2 linked regions of the Homo sapiens genome follow. The main gene of each other region encodes a partner of the protein of the gene in region 2 in a complex. Each region holds a gene or a part of one and is shown on either strand. Other genes may lie near its edges. A codon is read from its position in the direction of its gene.

Region 1 (7,037 bases), on a different chromosome or scaffold from region 2:
GACACAACGCCCGACACGCTGGAAGGGACGGCCCAGACAGCGCGTGAGGGTCCCGCGGCTGCCGTGACAGAGGACCACGGAGGGGTGCTGAGAACAGCAGACATTCATTCTCTCTGGAGTTCTGGAGGCCGCAGTCCAAAATCCAGCTCCCTCAGGGCCTCCTGGGGCGACTCCTCACCTCTCCAGCTTCCAGTGGCTGCCGGGGGAACTCGGGCGCATGGGCATTACCCGTCTCCGCCTCTGTAATCAGATCACCTCCTCCTCTTCTGTCTCTCAAATCTCCCTCTGTCTCTCTCTTATAAGGATGCTTGGATTTGGGGCCACCTGGGTAATACAGGATAATCTCCTCATCACAAGATCTTTCATCACATCTGCAAATACCCTTTTCCCAATAAGATCCCATTCACACGTTCAGGGATAAAACACAAACATCTGGCCTGGTACGGTGGCTCACGCCTGCAATCCCAGCACTGTGGGAGACCAAGGCAGGAGTGTCGCTGAAGGCCAGGAGTTCAAGACCAGCCTGTGTGACATAGCAAGACCCCATCTCTACAAAAAACTTTTGAAACTAGCCAGGCATGGTGGCGCATACCCGTAGTCCCAGCTACTTGGGAGGCTGAGGCAGGAAGATTCCTTGAGCCCAGGAGTTCAAGGCACAGTGAGCTCTAACCACACAACTGCACTCCAGCCTGGGCAACAGAGCAAGACCCTGTCTCAAACACAGATCACAGCACACACACACACACACACACACACCACACACACACAGCAATCAGACACATAAGAGCATAAACCACACACAGAGACTCAATGACACTGACACCAGCAAACACCAACACACACAAACACATGCATGTAGTTGGCCAGGCACACAGACACAAAGGTATGTAACAGCATGCCCCCATACAAAGATGTCATTACACAAATACACAAATACTAGCATGCAGACACACAACGACCTCCTAACACATAGAAACACATGGGACACGGCACATCCCCGGTGCACACAAACACACTGTATTCCACGACACCCTGGCATGTAGATGCTCACAGAAAACAGCCGTCCCTCACCAGCACCCTGACACTGAGACATGCCGCAGCCTGGACACATGGATACTGAAATCCAGACACATCGTCCCCAGGTACCCTGAGGTCTAGTCGCCCAGATGCTAAAATACAGACAGGCATTGGTCTCACCTAGCATGGGACACTGTCATATCCTGACACGGCAATGTCCAAACAGGTCGCATGTATGGACACCCAGACTTACACAGGGAGAGCTGACGGCCTTGGCTGCACCTAAGGGGACACACACTGACCCCTCAGGAAATCCTGCTGGTCCCGTCCCCAGGGTGGGAAAGGTCAACAAGGGAAGGACGTGATGACGCTAGCCTCACAGGGAATGCCCTCCCCTTCCTCCTCGGGTCACACAGGCTGGTGTGCACTGGCCTCTCTGACTCAGATTCCCGAAGGAAGGATTGACTGACTGCCTCTTCTATAAGAGCCAACCTCCAATCTCCATGTGAGTGCTCTGCACCAGCCTTGAGTGAAGCAGATCCCAGGCCCCTTTGAGGAAAGGCAAAAATCTTACTGCCCAACCCCCTAGCAGTGCCTCTGAGCTTGCTCCACGGGGTACAGGGAAAGGGGCCGACTGGGCCGGAAGGGCCCCAGCGAAGGAGGCACACCTGGTAGTTCCATTTCCTGACTAGCAACTTCCAGCCCACATCAATTTTAAGGAGTCCAGAATATTTGTAGTATGCAAAAAGGGGCATTACGAAACTTTTAAAAGTCTGTTTTAATTATAAAAGTAATATATGCACATGGTTTTAAAAAAAATGCTGGCTGGGTGCGGTGGCGCATGCCTGTAATTCCAGCACTTTGGGAGGCCGAGGTGGGTGGATCACGAGGTCAGGAGTTCGAGACCAGCCTGGCCAGCTTGGTAAAACCCCGTCTCTACTAAAAATACAAAAAATCAGCTGGGTATGGTGGCACGTGCCTGTAATCCCAGCTACTCAGGGGGCTGAGGCAGAATTGCTTGAACCCAGGAGGCGGAGGTTGCAGTGAGCAGAGATGGCGCCACTGCAGTCCAGCCTGGGCAACAGAGAGAGACTCCATCTCAAAAAAAAAAAAAAAAAAATGCTCTATGGGCACAAGATGAAAACCCAGAGTCTCCTTGACTCTTCCCTCCTGAGGCCTGAGGCCTTCCCTGGGAGATGGGTGCTGTGAACAGGTAAGAATGGCCCTCCTAAGGCCAGGGGCAGTGGCTCACGCCTGTAATCCCAGCACTTTGGGAGGCCGAGGTGGGCGGATCACGAGGTCAGGAGATTGAGACCATCCTGGCTAACAGGGTGAAACTCCGTCTCTACTAAAAATACAAAAAAATTAGCCGGGCGTGGTGGTGGGCGCCTGTAGTTCCAGCTACTTGGTTGGCTGAGGCAGGAGAATGGCATGAACCCAGGAGGCGGAGCTTGCAGTGAGCCGAGATCGCACCACTGCACTCCAGCCTGGGCTACAGAGCCAGACTCTGTCTCAAAAAAAAAAAAAAAAAAAAATGCCCTCCTAGCCAGAGGCGGTGGGTCACACCTGTAATGCCCACACTGTGGGAGGCTGAGGCAGGAAGATGGCTTAAGCCCAGGAGTTCAAGACCAGCCTAGTCAACACAGAAAGACCTCGTCTCTATGAATACTTTAAAACTTAGCCAGGTGGGGTGGCACACACCTGTAGTTCCAGCTACTTGGGAGGCCGAGGTGGGAGGATTGCTTGAGCCCAGGTGGTAGAGGCTGCAGTGAGCCAAGATCACACCACTGCATTCCAGCCTGAATGACAGAGCGAGACCCTATCTCAAGAATAAAAAAAGAACGGAGAAGGAGAAAGGAGAGGAGGGGAAGGGAGGGGAGGAGAAGGGAGGGGAGGGGAGAAAAAGAAAGAGAGAGAAAGGAAGGAAGGAAGGAGAAAGGGAGGGAGGGAAGAGAAGGAAGGGAAGGAAGGAGAAAAGGAAGGGAGGAAGGGAAGGGAAGGAAGGAAGAAGGAAGGAAAGGAAGGAAGAAGGGAGGGAGGAAGGTAAGGGAAGGAAGAGAAGGAAGGGAGGAAGGGAGGGAGGGAAGAGAAGAGAAGGAAGGAAAGAGAAAAGGAAGGAAGGAAGAAGGAAGGAAAGGAAGGAAGAAGGGAGGGAGGGAGGGAAGGGAAGGAAGAGAAGGGAGGGAAGGAAGAAGGAAGGAAGGAAGGAGAGAAGGAAGTAAGAGAGGGAAGGAAGGAAGGCAGGCAGGCAGGCAGGCAGGCTCTCCTGGGGGAGATTCTTGTGGGTCCTGTGCCAGTCCCGTGTGGTGCCTCCTACCAGTCCTCTTTAGGAGAGCCAACCTTTCTCTGTCTCATTCATTCCCAAGTCCTGTGCTGTCAGTGCCCCGCCACCTCCAGACCACTCAGCCCACACCGGACCCCAGTGCCCCCTGCCTGCAGAAGCCCAAGCTGTGGGGCAGAGAAGGCCCTGGCACTGGTTCAGAACCACTGCCCCCAGAGCTGGGAAAGGGTGACCCAATGGTCAGTGACCCCAGTAAAACCCCATGGCCTTAAGCCGCCAGGCACCTCCGGGGGTCAGTCGCAAAAGTGGTCTCAGGGCCAGTTGGAAGAAGGCTGAATCCTGCGCTGCCGGTGCACGGCCCCCAGGGCCAGAGGTCAGGGTCCCGAGCCCAGAGACCACACTCGCCGCGCGGGCCAGGATGCGGCGGAATCAGGTCGCCTCAATCCGTGCGCGCCGGACTCCGGGCAGTGCCTAGCGCCCCTATCGGGCCTCAGTTTACCCCACTGTCCAAAAAACGTCCCCCGCCCCAGGACGGCAGAACCGGCTACTCTGGACTGCGGGCCCGGCCGACGGGGGCGGAACCGCGGAGCGGGGGAACCACAGGCCAGCGCCGGGCCCCCGCCCCCGCCCCCGCCCCCTCCCCGCCCCCTCCCCGTCGCGGAGCGGCCGCGGGAATAACGCGAGAGTTCGCCCCCTCCCCCCCGCAGTAAAACTGTCAAAGGTGGGAGGGGCGGGAGCGCGCATGTGCGCAGCGCGGCGCGCAGCCTGCGCCGCCCGGACCCAGCGCCCCGCGCCCCGCGCCCCCCGCCCCGGCCCGGCCCGGCCCGGCCGCAGCCCCGCTGGGCGCCGCAGGTAAGCGCCCGGCCGCGCCCCGGACCCATTCTGGCCGCAGCCCCGGCGCCCACCGCGCCCCGGATCTCGACCCTGCGCGCAGGCCAAGGAGGGGGCCGGGCCCGGAGCCCCCCCGCCCCCCGCCGCGCCCGAGCCCCCGCGCCCCGCGCCGGCGCCGTCTTCCTGCCTCCTCCTTCTCCAGAAAAAGTCGCCATTTTGGTTCACTGCCTTCGCCCCCCCACCCCGCGCCCGCGATCGGCCCTGCCCGGCCAGGCCGAGGCCCGCGCCCCGCGCCCGCTCCCGGCCCCAGGTGACAGGTGGGTGGCGAGGCTGGCCCCAGGTGCGCGTCCCTGGCCGCGCTCACCCGCGCGCCAGGCCTGGGCCGGGGTCCCGGGCCGAACGGCCTACGCGGCGGACCCGCTGCTGGCGTCTCCTGCGCGCAGCGCGGCGGAGCCCCCTCTCCCCGCGAGGGCTCTGTGTCCCCGCTGGGCTCGGGAGGGCCGAAGCCCCTTCTCATCCGGGGCGCCAGTCGCGTCTCTGCCTCCCAGGCTGGCCCTGGCCTCAGGCCCCACTATTCTGAATTCTTCTCCCAGGCTTCAGAAAAATTGGAAGTGGGGCCTCAGCAGGCACCTGCACCCCAGGCCACCGGGGTCATCAGGTGCTGGGATGACTCATGCCGGCCCTGTCTCCTTTCAAAAGTTGCAAAGTGAGGACTTCCAGAGAACTTTGTCCCCGGACACTGGCCTCCCCCTTGGCAATGGGCAGTGACTGTCCTGACCTCTGACCTCAGCTCTCTGGCCCTCCTGGACACAGCAGCCCCTTCCCATCCCCTCGGATCCAAGTTAATTAGAAGCTATCAGGAGGGGGCCACCTGCCCACTCAACCCTCACCCTGCTTCCTGTCCCACCCCCTTCCGTGGCTTTTCCACAGGGCTGGGCCCAGAGTCTCCTCTGCTCCCCAGCTCTCAGGATGGGGTTCCCAGCAGCACAGGCCCTCGGGGGCCCCAGCCTTGGGCAGCAGGGCGTTCTCTCTGGCCAGCATCCTGGGCCTTCACTGCTGGTGCTTCCACGACTTGTTTGGCTGAAGTGGTAGTGGTGGGTCTGTAGGCAGAGGACTGAGAGGATCCAGAGAGAGGTGGGGGGCGGGTCAGCCTGCCAAGCCTGGAGACAAGTCTGCGAAGAGCATCAGGTAGGATAGTTCAGCCGGCACAGGGACGGGAGCTTGGTGCAGTGCCAGATTGGGCCAGGGGTCCTCAGTGCCCACCTTGGCTGTTTTCCATCTGTGTCTGGAGAGAAGATTCCAAGGGTACCTGCCTGGGTAGGCTGGCATTGCATCAAGTCAGCATGGGAAGGTATGAGGGCCCCAGTGAGAAGCTGTGCCCCCACTGCTGGGCCTGGGCAGCTTGTGAGCCAGCAGCCATCATCAGAGACATAATTGGCCCCTGGAGGAATGTTGCCAGCCTCCTTCCTCCTGCGCAAGGCACCTCTCCCAGGGGCACACCCCCTCCCAGCACTGGGTAGGAGTGCATCACCTTCGGCATCATCTTCGCAGCTGTGGGGCTACGCACACTGTGGAGCTGCGTACACTGTAGAGCTGCGTGTTGGGAAGGGGGTCTGGAAGTTGGTGAGGGTCTCAGGACAGGACTAGATCCTATCAAACTGATGATGACTCCTGGGTTATCTGGGGAGACCTTGGCTGGCAGCCCCTCCCCTAAGTCAGAAGCCCCCATCACTTGCTTTTCCCACGTGAACAAAACCACAGGAAGGCAGGCCCCTCTTCCCTGACCAGAGAGGACCTGCCAAGGGCAGGGCTCCAGGGCAGCCTCACCACGTGTTCCAAGTGGGGCCCGTCAGGCTTCACAGATTGTCTACTTGCTCTGCAGAGATGACGGATCCTTTCTGCGTTGGAGGCCGTCGGCTCCCGGGGTCCAGCAAGAGTGGTCCCGGGAAGGATGGCAGCCGAAAGGAGGTCCGACTTCCAATGCTGCATGACCCACCGAAGATGGGTAAGAGGAGTCAGGGCCAGAGTCAATTCCAGATGGTTCTGGGCAGCAAGTGGTAGGAGTGGACCATTGCCCTGGGCGTCCTGTCTCCAGGTACCCAGCTAGGCCCCTAGAGTTCCCAAGGACCTTACCAGGGTAGGGGTTGCCTTGGACATAGCCCAGGGTCCTGGGTTCTTGTCCTCAGCTGGCCGCAGCCCCTGCCCCCGGTGCCCTCGTGTTGGGACAGCGGTGCTCACTGTGGGCCTGTGCAGCCGCCGGTGGTAGGCGGTGCTACACAGCTTCCGAGCCTTGCTGTGTTGTGTGCTGCAGGGATGCCGGTGGTCCGTGGTGGACAGACAGTGCCCGGCCAGGCCCCTCTCTGCTTTGACCCGGGAAGTCCAGCCAGTGACAAGACAGAAGGGAAGAAAAAGGGGCGGCCAAAAGCCGAGAACCAGGCCCTCCGAGACATTCCTGTGAGCTCCCTCAGGGCCATGGTGGGGCTCATGCTGGGGTCTCCCTATCCAGCCACTGCCCTGCCCTGATTTGTCCTCTGCACATCTGGTACCAACTCTATGCCTCAAGATGTGGGCACTGGCCTGGCAGACTTCACGTGGCCTGGCTTTGTATCTGATGTGCCGGGAGATTCGGGGGATCGCGTTGGTGGGCTCCTAGAACGGGTCTTGTGCATGGCCCCTGCCAGGTGGCTTGAATTCCCACTGCAGTCCCGAGGTTGAGGGGCTCATGTGGTGTGTGTGCCCTGCAGGCCCGGGGGGGCTCTGAGTCTGGGGCTCGGGCTGGCAGTGGCCCAGGTGGCTGCGGGTCAGCAGCACCACCTTTCCCCACGCCTAGCTCTCCCTGATGAACGACTGGAAGGATGAGTTCAAGGCACACTCGAGGGTGAAGTGTCCAAACTCAGGGTGCTGGCTG
Region 2 (7,019 bases):
TACAAAAAAGACACGTGCACTTGTATGTTCACTGTAGCATTATTCACAATACCAAAGATACGGAAATCAACCCAAGTGTCCATCAATGGTTGACTGAATAAAAAAATTTTTTTGGCTGAGTATAGTGGCTCATGCCTATAAGCCCAGAACTTTGGGAAGCCAAAGTGGGTGAATTGCAAGAGCCCAGGAGTTTTCAGACCAGCCTGGGCAACGTGGTGAGACCTACTCTCTACAAAAAATACAATGGAAATCAGCTGGGCATGGTGGCGCATGCCTGCAATCCCAGCTACTCAGGACGCTGAGGCAGGAGGACTGCTTGAGCCCAGGAGGCAGAGGTTGCAGTAAGCGGGGATTGTGTGACTGCACTCCAGCCTGGGTGACAAAGCAAGACTCCGCCTCAAAATAACAACAAAAACTCAATCATTTAGGAAAAAAAGGCTGGATTCTGATTCCATACCAAATACCAGAATGACAAAAGTTTTAATGGCCCAAACATAAAAGTCCCAGAAGACAACAATAGATGAACACATACTTTATGAAATCATTGAATGGGAGGTCTGAGGTGGGAAGATTGAGGCCAGAGTTCCAGATCAGCCTGAGCAACATAGTGACATGCCATCTCTTAAAAAAAAAAAAAATTAAGTTATCTGGGTGTGGTGGTGGGCGCCTGTAATCCCAGCTACTTGGGAGGCTGAATCAGGAGAATAGCTTGAATCTGGGAGACGGAGGTTGCAGTGAGCAGAGATTGCGCCACTGCACTACAGCCTGGGCGACAGAGCCAGACTCCGACTCAAAAAAAATAAATAAATAAAATAAAAATCCAGGTATGGTGGTGTATGTCTGTAGCCAGAGCTACTTGGGAGGCATAGGTGGGAGGATCGTTTGAGCCCATAAGGAGGCTGCAGTCAGCTAAGATCATGCCAGTGCACTCCAGTCTGGGTGACAGAGCAAGGCTCCATTAAAAAAGCAACTTACAGCTTCTAACCAATAACAGGACTTAAGATTTTAAGTTAAACAAGAAAATGATCTGCACCTATTTATTGGGTGGAGAAGGTATAATTTACCTTATATGAAGAGGTAACTCAAAAGGAAATACGGGCAAAAAACATAAATAAACAGGAGATGTAAGCTCAACATCACAAATAAAAAAAGCAATGTAAACTTGAGAATGAACTCTACTGAGTCCAGTGTTGGCAAAGGCATGGAGAAACAGACATAAATACATACGCTGTTGTGGGACTTCAAATCTTTTTCTGGAGTGCAACTTAGCAGTATCAATTATATTAAAAAACGGTCCTGCCCTTTGATACAACATTCTACTTAGAAAGTATTTCTATAGCAAAACTATGCTTTTGAAGTCAAAAAATTAGAAACCATCTAAATGTCTATCAGTAAGGAATAGTTAATTATGGTCTACTATACAGCCATCAAAAGGAGGCAGGTCTCCATCTACTAACAAAGATACATGCCCCAGATATATTAGGCCATAAAAGCAAATTATGAACCTATATTGCATATTCTATACCTGGCATACAAAATTACTCAACATATTTGTTGAATGAGTGATCCAATACACAGGATAAATCCTTCAGAAAACAATACATCACAATACATCCATTTAAGTGATATCCAGGGGAAAGGTTTTTCTTTTGTTTTGTTTTTGAGACGGAGTTTCCCTTTTTTTTTTTGCCCAGGCTGGAGTGCAATGGTGAGATCTCGGCTCACTGCAATCTCTGCCTCCCGGGTTCAAGTGATGCTCTTGCCTCAGCCTCCTGAGTAGCTGGGATTACAGGTGCGTGCCACTGCACATGGCTAATTTTGTATTTTTAGTAGAGACAGGGTTTCACTATGTTGGCCAGGCTGGTCTTGAACTCCTGACCTCAAGTGATCCACTGGTCTCAGCCTCCCAAAGTGCTGGGATTACAGGAGTGACTCACCGCACCCGGCCAGGGAAAGGTTTATTATATGGGAGAAGGGGTGCGTTTTTTACATTGTGTGTAAAATTACATATATATGTAAAACCACATATATGTGTGTGTATACATTTATATTGTGTGTGTGTAAAATTACATATATTTTATATATATAAAATTTATATGTATATATAAATTATATATATTACACACAATATAAATATATACACATGTAGTTTTACATATATAATTTATATATTTATATATAAATATAATACATTTATATTATCTAAAATTATATATAACTATATTTTACACACAATATATACACGCATGTAGTTTTACATATACATACATATATACGTATGTTTATATATAAATATAACATTTATATTGTGTAAAATTACACATATAATTTTACACACACAATATAAATATATACACACACATATATGTAGTTTTACAATTTATCACACTACCAATCAGAGTATTTGTGCCTCAGTAACAAGAACAAAAGGCAGGAGGATCATTTGAGGTCCGGAGTTCGAGACCAGCCTGACCAACATGATGAAACCCTGTCTCTACTAAAAATACAAAAAATTAGCCAGGCGTGGTGGTGCATGCCTGTAGTCCCAGCTGCTTGGGAGGCTGAGGCAGGAGAATCGCTTGAACCTGGGAGGTGGAGGTTGCAGTGAACTGAGATCGCGCCACTGCACTCCAGCCTGGGCAGCAGAGCGAGACTCCATCTCCAAAAAAAAAAAAAGGAAAGCGTTTAAGCATTTCATGAGCAGTTAAACCCTTAGGTTATGGCCTAAAAACAGGATATAATTAAACAACTCATTGGAACTTAGTTTCTATACACATAGAGAGTGCCATGGTTAAGTCATTTCTACCACTTTAAACCTAGAAAGGGTAATTTAAGTTAGTGTTTCTCAACCTTTTTTTTTTTTTTACTATTGCTCCTCTAAGAACTCTTTTAAGAACTATTCCCTCCCCACCAGTCCCATGAAATTTTAATACCATAGATATCCTATGTCCTCTGTGCATATCTGTGCTTTAAACAATCAACCAGTAAGATTATTTACACCTACTCACATACACAAACCAATTTTCACCTCCTTAGGGGTAGTTATCTCCCGTGTTAAGAATGTATAGCAATATGGATGGGTGCAGTGGCTCACGCCTGTAATTCCAGCACTCTGAGAGGCTGAGGTGGGTGGATCACCTGAGGTCAGGAGTTCAAGACCAGCCTGGCCAACTTGGTGAAACCCTGTCTCCACTAAAAATACAAAAATTAACTAGGCGTGGTGGCGGGCGCCTGTAATCCCAGCTACTCAGGAGGATGAGGCAGAAGAATCGCTTGAACCCGGGAGGCGGAGGTTGCAGTGAGAGAAGATCGTGCCACTACACTCCAACCTAGGCAATAGAGCGAGACTGAGTAAAAAAATAAAAAATCAAGAATGTACAGCAATAATATATATTTTTGCTTCTTTCAATTGCAGAAATCCTCCCCACCAGCACCAGCTGAGAAAAGTTTATTGTGAAGGTACAGAACCAAGGATGTGTTAAGTATTTCTTCTGATACCTAAAACTCTAATATAAATATAAATACCTACCATTGCAAACTCAGGCTTTCCCTCAACCTTAAATATTGTTTCTAAAGTCAGAGTTTACTTTATCAAAGTGCACATAACAGATATGACCCACACATCTTTACTTCTTTCACCTTTAAGATTCCTACCTCCTTTCTCACTGTCGTAGTGTGACGCATCAAACTGAGCATCATCATTAGGGAGCTGCACACTGGCTATAACAAGATGGTTTTGTTCATCCGATGTGTGTGTCCCCAGGACAAGTCGATGAATGCTGAAATCTTTCCCTTCTGGTCTGTAACGGCAATATATAGTCACTGTTCAAATTAGTAACATCAGGAGACGGCGAAGTCAACAATATACATGTATGTCAAAGTCACTAATACAACCAGGTTTTAAGAGAGGGGAAAAAGTCATTAAGGGTCTTTTCTTTCTTTCTTTTTTTATAAATAGAGTCTCACTCTTTCGCCCAGGCTAGAATGGAGTGGTGCGATCTTGGCTCACTGCAACCTCTGGCTCTCGGATTCAAGCGATTCTCATGCCTCAGCCTCCCGAGTAGCTGGGACTACAAGAACCTGCCACCATGCCTGGCTGATTTTCGTATTTTTAGTAGAGACGGGATTTCACCATGTTGGCCAGGCTGGTCTCGAACGCCTGGCCTCAAATTATCCACCCACCTCAGCCTCCCAACGTGCAGAGATTACAGGCAAGAGCCACCGTGCCTGGCCAAGAGCCATATTTTCTACTTAATTACTCTGGAGAAAAAGTAAAACGTTTTATGGAATAAAATGTGAATTAACTACTCACTCACTACCAACAGGTTGGAGGGAAAGCAAACCATTGTTGGGTATGCTAATAATTTTGCTTACTAAAACTTTCATTAAAAAGGAAAGAAGGGGAAAGGGTGCAAAGAAATTGAAAAGAATGAAAAAAGGGAAAGAAGAGTAAATAACATAAACCAATTTTTCAAACATTTACTAACCGCCTATCAATGGACACATCGCTCCAAACGCGATGGAAGTACAAAGACAATTAAGACATGATTCCTGACCTCAAAAAACCTGCAGCTGGGCCAGGCATGGTGGCTCACACCTGTAATCCCAGCACTTTGGGAGGCCGAAGAGGGTGGATTAATTGAGGTCAGGAATTCGAGACCAGCCTGACCAACATGATGAAACCCGGTCTCTACTAAAAATACAAAAATTAGCCGGGTGTGGTGGCGGTGCCTGTAGTCCTAGCTACTCAGGAGGCTGCGACAGGAGAACTGCTTGAACCCAGGAGGCAGAGGTTGCAGTGAGCCAAGACGGTGCCACTGCACTCCAGCCTGGGCGAAAGAGCAAGACTCTGTCTCAAAAAACAAACAAAACAAAAAAAACCGGCGGCTGGCTAATCCCAGCTACTTGGGAGGCTGAGGCACAAGAATCGCTTGAACCCGAAAGGCGGAGGCTGCAGTGAGCAGAGATCGTGTTACTGCACTCCAGCCTGGGTGACAGAGAAAGACTACTTCCTGTCTCAAAAAAGAAAAAAATAAATAAAAGAAAGAAAATTAAACAATTTGCCTAAGATCACACAGCTACTAAGTAACAAGTATGCTGAAGTCCAAATCTGACTTCTGATATGGGAAAGCACAGTGGGAGAGAAGGCCGATTAAAACTGACTATTTAGTGTTCTGAATGCCGTCTTAAGGCATTCTGTACTCCATACTGGGTCAAGGGCATCCACATCATCTGGGAACTTGTTAGAAACGCAAATTCTCACATCTACTCCAGACCCATTGAATCAGAAACTCTAGAAGGTGGGGCACAACTAACTGTTTCACAGTACCTCCAGCTGATTATGATGCATATAAAATTTTGAGAACCCCTGGCCTAGATGGGAAAGATGCTACACAACCAGAATTCATTGGGGTTTATAAATTGACTGCCTATAAAATGGAGAAAGAGAAAATGTCAAACTAAAGCCAATTATGATGAAAAGAAATAGGAACAACAGGAGAGAAAGTTGGGGTAAGGCCTTCACGTAAGGAATAATTCCATTTACAACATGTCAAACTGGGGAAGCCAGTAAGATATACCAGGGAAGACACGGGCAGGCAGAAGAAAAATCAGGAAAAGCTCTGGAGAAGTGAGGTCTAAAGATATCAATAGGAATTCTTCTGCACAGATGTCACAGGCAAAGCTCTGAGAGCTTCTACATTACACTGAAAAGAAATGAAGAGAGATATGAACAGAAAATTGGAATTACCTGTATGTAGAAGGTTAGACAAGAACCAGAAAAAGAATGAAGGAGAGGACAGTGTTACAGAACTACAACCGTGGTTTTTCTTTCTTTTTAAAGGGGGGAAACGGATCTGGGTAAACACCAGAAAAAGAACACACACAAAAGTAAACACTGCATCAGGGCTGCTTGCTTGTAAGTAATCCTCATCTTAAAAAACAAAAACAGGGCCAGGCACGGTGGCTCATGTCTGTAATCCCAGCACTTTGGGAGGTCAAAGTGGGAGGATCACTGGAGCCCAGAAGTTAAAGAACAGTCTGGACAACATAGCAAAAAAATTTTTCAAAAATTAGCCAGGTATGGTAGCGTGTGCCTGTAGCCCCAACTATTCCAGAGGCTGAGGCAGGAGGATTCCTTGGCCCAGGAGGTCAAGGCTGCAGGGAACTCTGATCGTGCCACTGCAACACAGTCTGGGCAACAAAGCAAGATCCTGTCTCAAAAACAATTTTCAGCCAGGTGCACTAGCTCACGCCTGTAATCCCAGCACTTTGGGAGGCCGAAGCGGGTGGATTACCTGAGGTCAGGAGTTCAAGACCAGCCTGGACAACATGGTGAAACCCCATCTCTACTAAAAATACAAAAAATTAGCTGGGCGTGGTGGCGGGTGCCTGTAATCCCAGCTACTTGGGAGGCTGGGGCAGGAGAATCGATTGAACCCAGGAGGCGGAGGTTGCAGTGAGCTCAGATCATGCCACTGCACTCCAGTATGAGTAACAAGAGTGAAACTCCGTCCTCCGTCTCAAAACAACAACAACAACAAAAAACAATTCTCACATTATTTATCTAGATTTGCTAATGCAGAAAACTACTAAGATGACAGTACAGATTTCAGCCTTGGGGAATTAAGTCTTTAATTCTTGCTTTCGAAACCTAGCTAGTCATTCTATTATATTACTTGGGAAGTTTCTGAAAAGTAGGGGTTCTAGAATGTTTAGTAGGTATGGGATGGCCAATATTTGTGATCCACTAGTCCAATAAGCACAATTTAGCATATGACTATAGTAAATGTGGAATCACCATTCCAGTACACTTCTCATTAAGTACTCTGCCACAAGTTCTTTTTCTTTGAGACAGGGTGGCAATCCCTAGCTCAGGCTGGAGTGCAGTAGCAGGATCACAGCTCAATGCAGCCTTGACCTCCCAAGGCTCAGGTGATCCTCCTGCCTCAGCCCCCACTGAGGAGCTGGGACTAACAGGTACGCACCACCATGCCCGGATAATATTTGTAATTTTAGTA

Evidence for each region. The genes of interacting proteins can lie anywhere in the genome.
Region 1: the proteins of RBBP4 (region 2) and ZNF512B are in contact, whole or in part, in a crystal structure (PDB 8TX8), measured with the Homo sapiens proteins. Residues at the interface, in NP_005601.1 of Homo sapiens: Ala39, Leu40, Glu41, Trp42, Pro43, Leu45, His71 (codon at 3,754), Thr72 (codon at 3,751), Ser73 (codon at 3,748), Glu126, Asn128, Arg129, Pro145, Glu179, Tyr181, Glu231, Asp248, Glu275, Asn277, Asp318, Glu319, Phe321, Thr338, Lys376, Glu395, Asn397; in NP_065764.1 of Homo sapiens: Lys419, His420, Arg421, Arg422, Lys423, Gln424, Pro427, Lys428, Lys429, Phe430.

What each region holds. Positions count from the first base shown.
Region 1 is NC_000020.11:63,966,927-63,973,963, reverse strand, and holds the start of ZNF512B (zinc finger protein 512B), read left to right. Parts: upstream 1-4,033; 5' UTR 4,034-4,040; coding exon of another isoform or gene 4,041-4,150; intron 4,151-4,306; exon of another isoform or gene 4,307-4,446; intron 4,447-4,594; exon of another isoform or gene 4,595-4,722; coding exon of another isoform or gene 4,723-4,835; intron 4,836-6,011; coding exon of another isoform or gene 6,012-6,013; coding exon 6,014-6,134; intron 6,135-6,440; coding exon 6,441-6,583; intron 6,584-6,959; coding exon 6,960-7,037. UniProt on the Homo sapiens protein: Involved in transcriptional regulation by repressing gene expression. Associates with the nucleosome remodeling and histone deacetylase (NuRD) complex, which promotes transcriptional repression by histone deacetylation and nucleosome remodeling.
Region 2 is NC_000001.11:32,654,208-32,661,226, reverse strand, and holds part of RBBP4 (histone-binding protein RBBP4), read right to left. Parts: intron 3,801-7,019; coding exon 3,655-3,800; intron 1-3,654. UniProt on the Homo sapiens protein: Core histone-binding subunit that may target chromatin assembly factors, chromatin remodeling factors and histone deacetylases to their histone substrates in a manner that is regulated by nucleosomal DNA.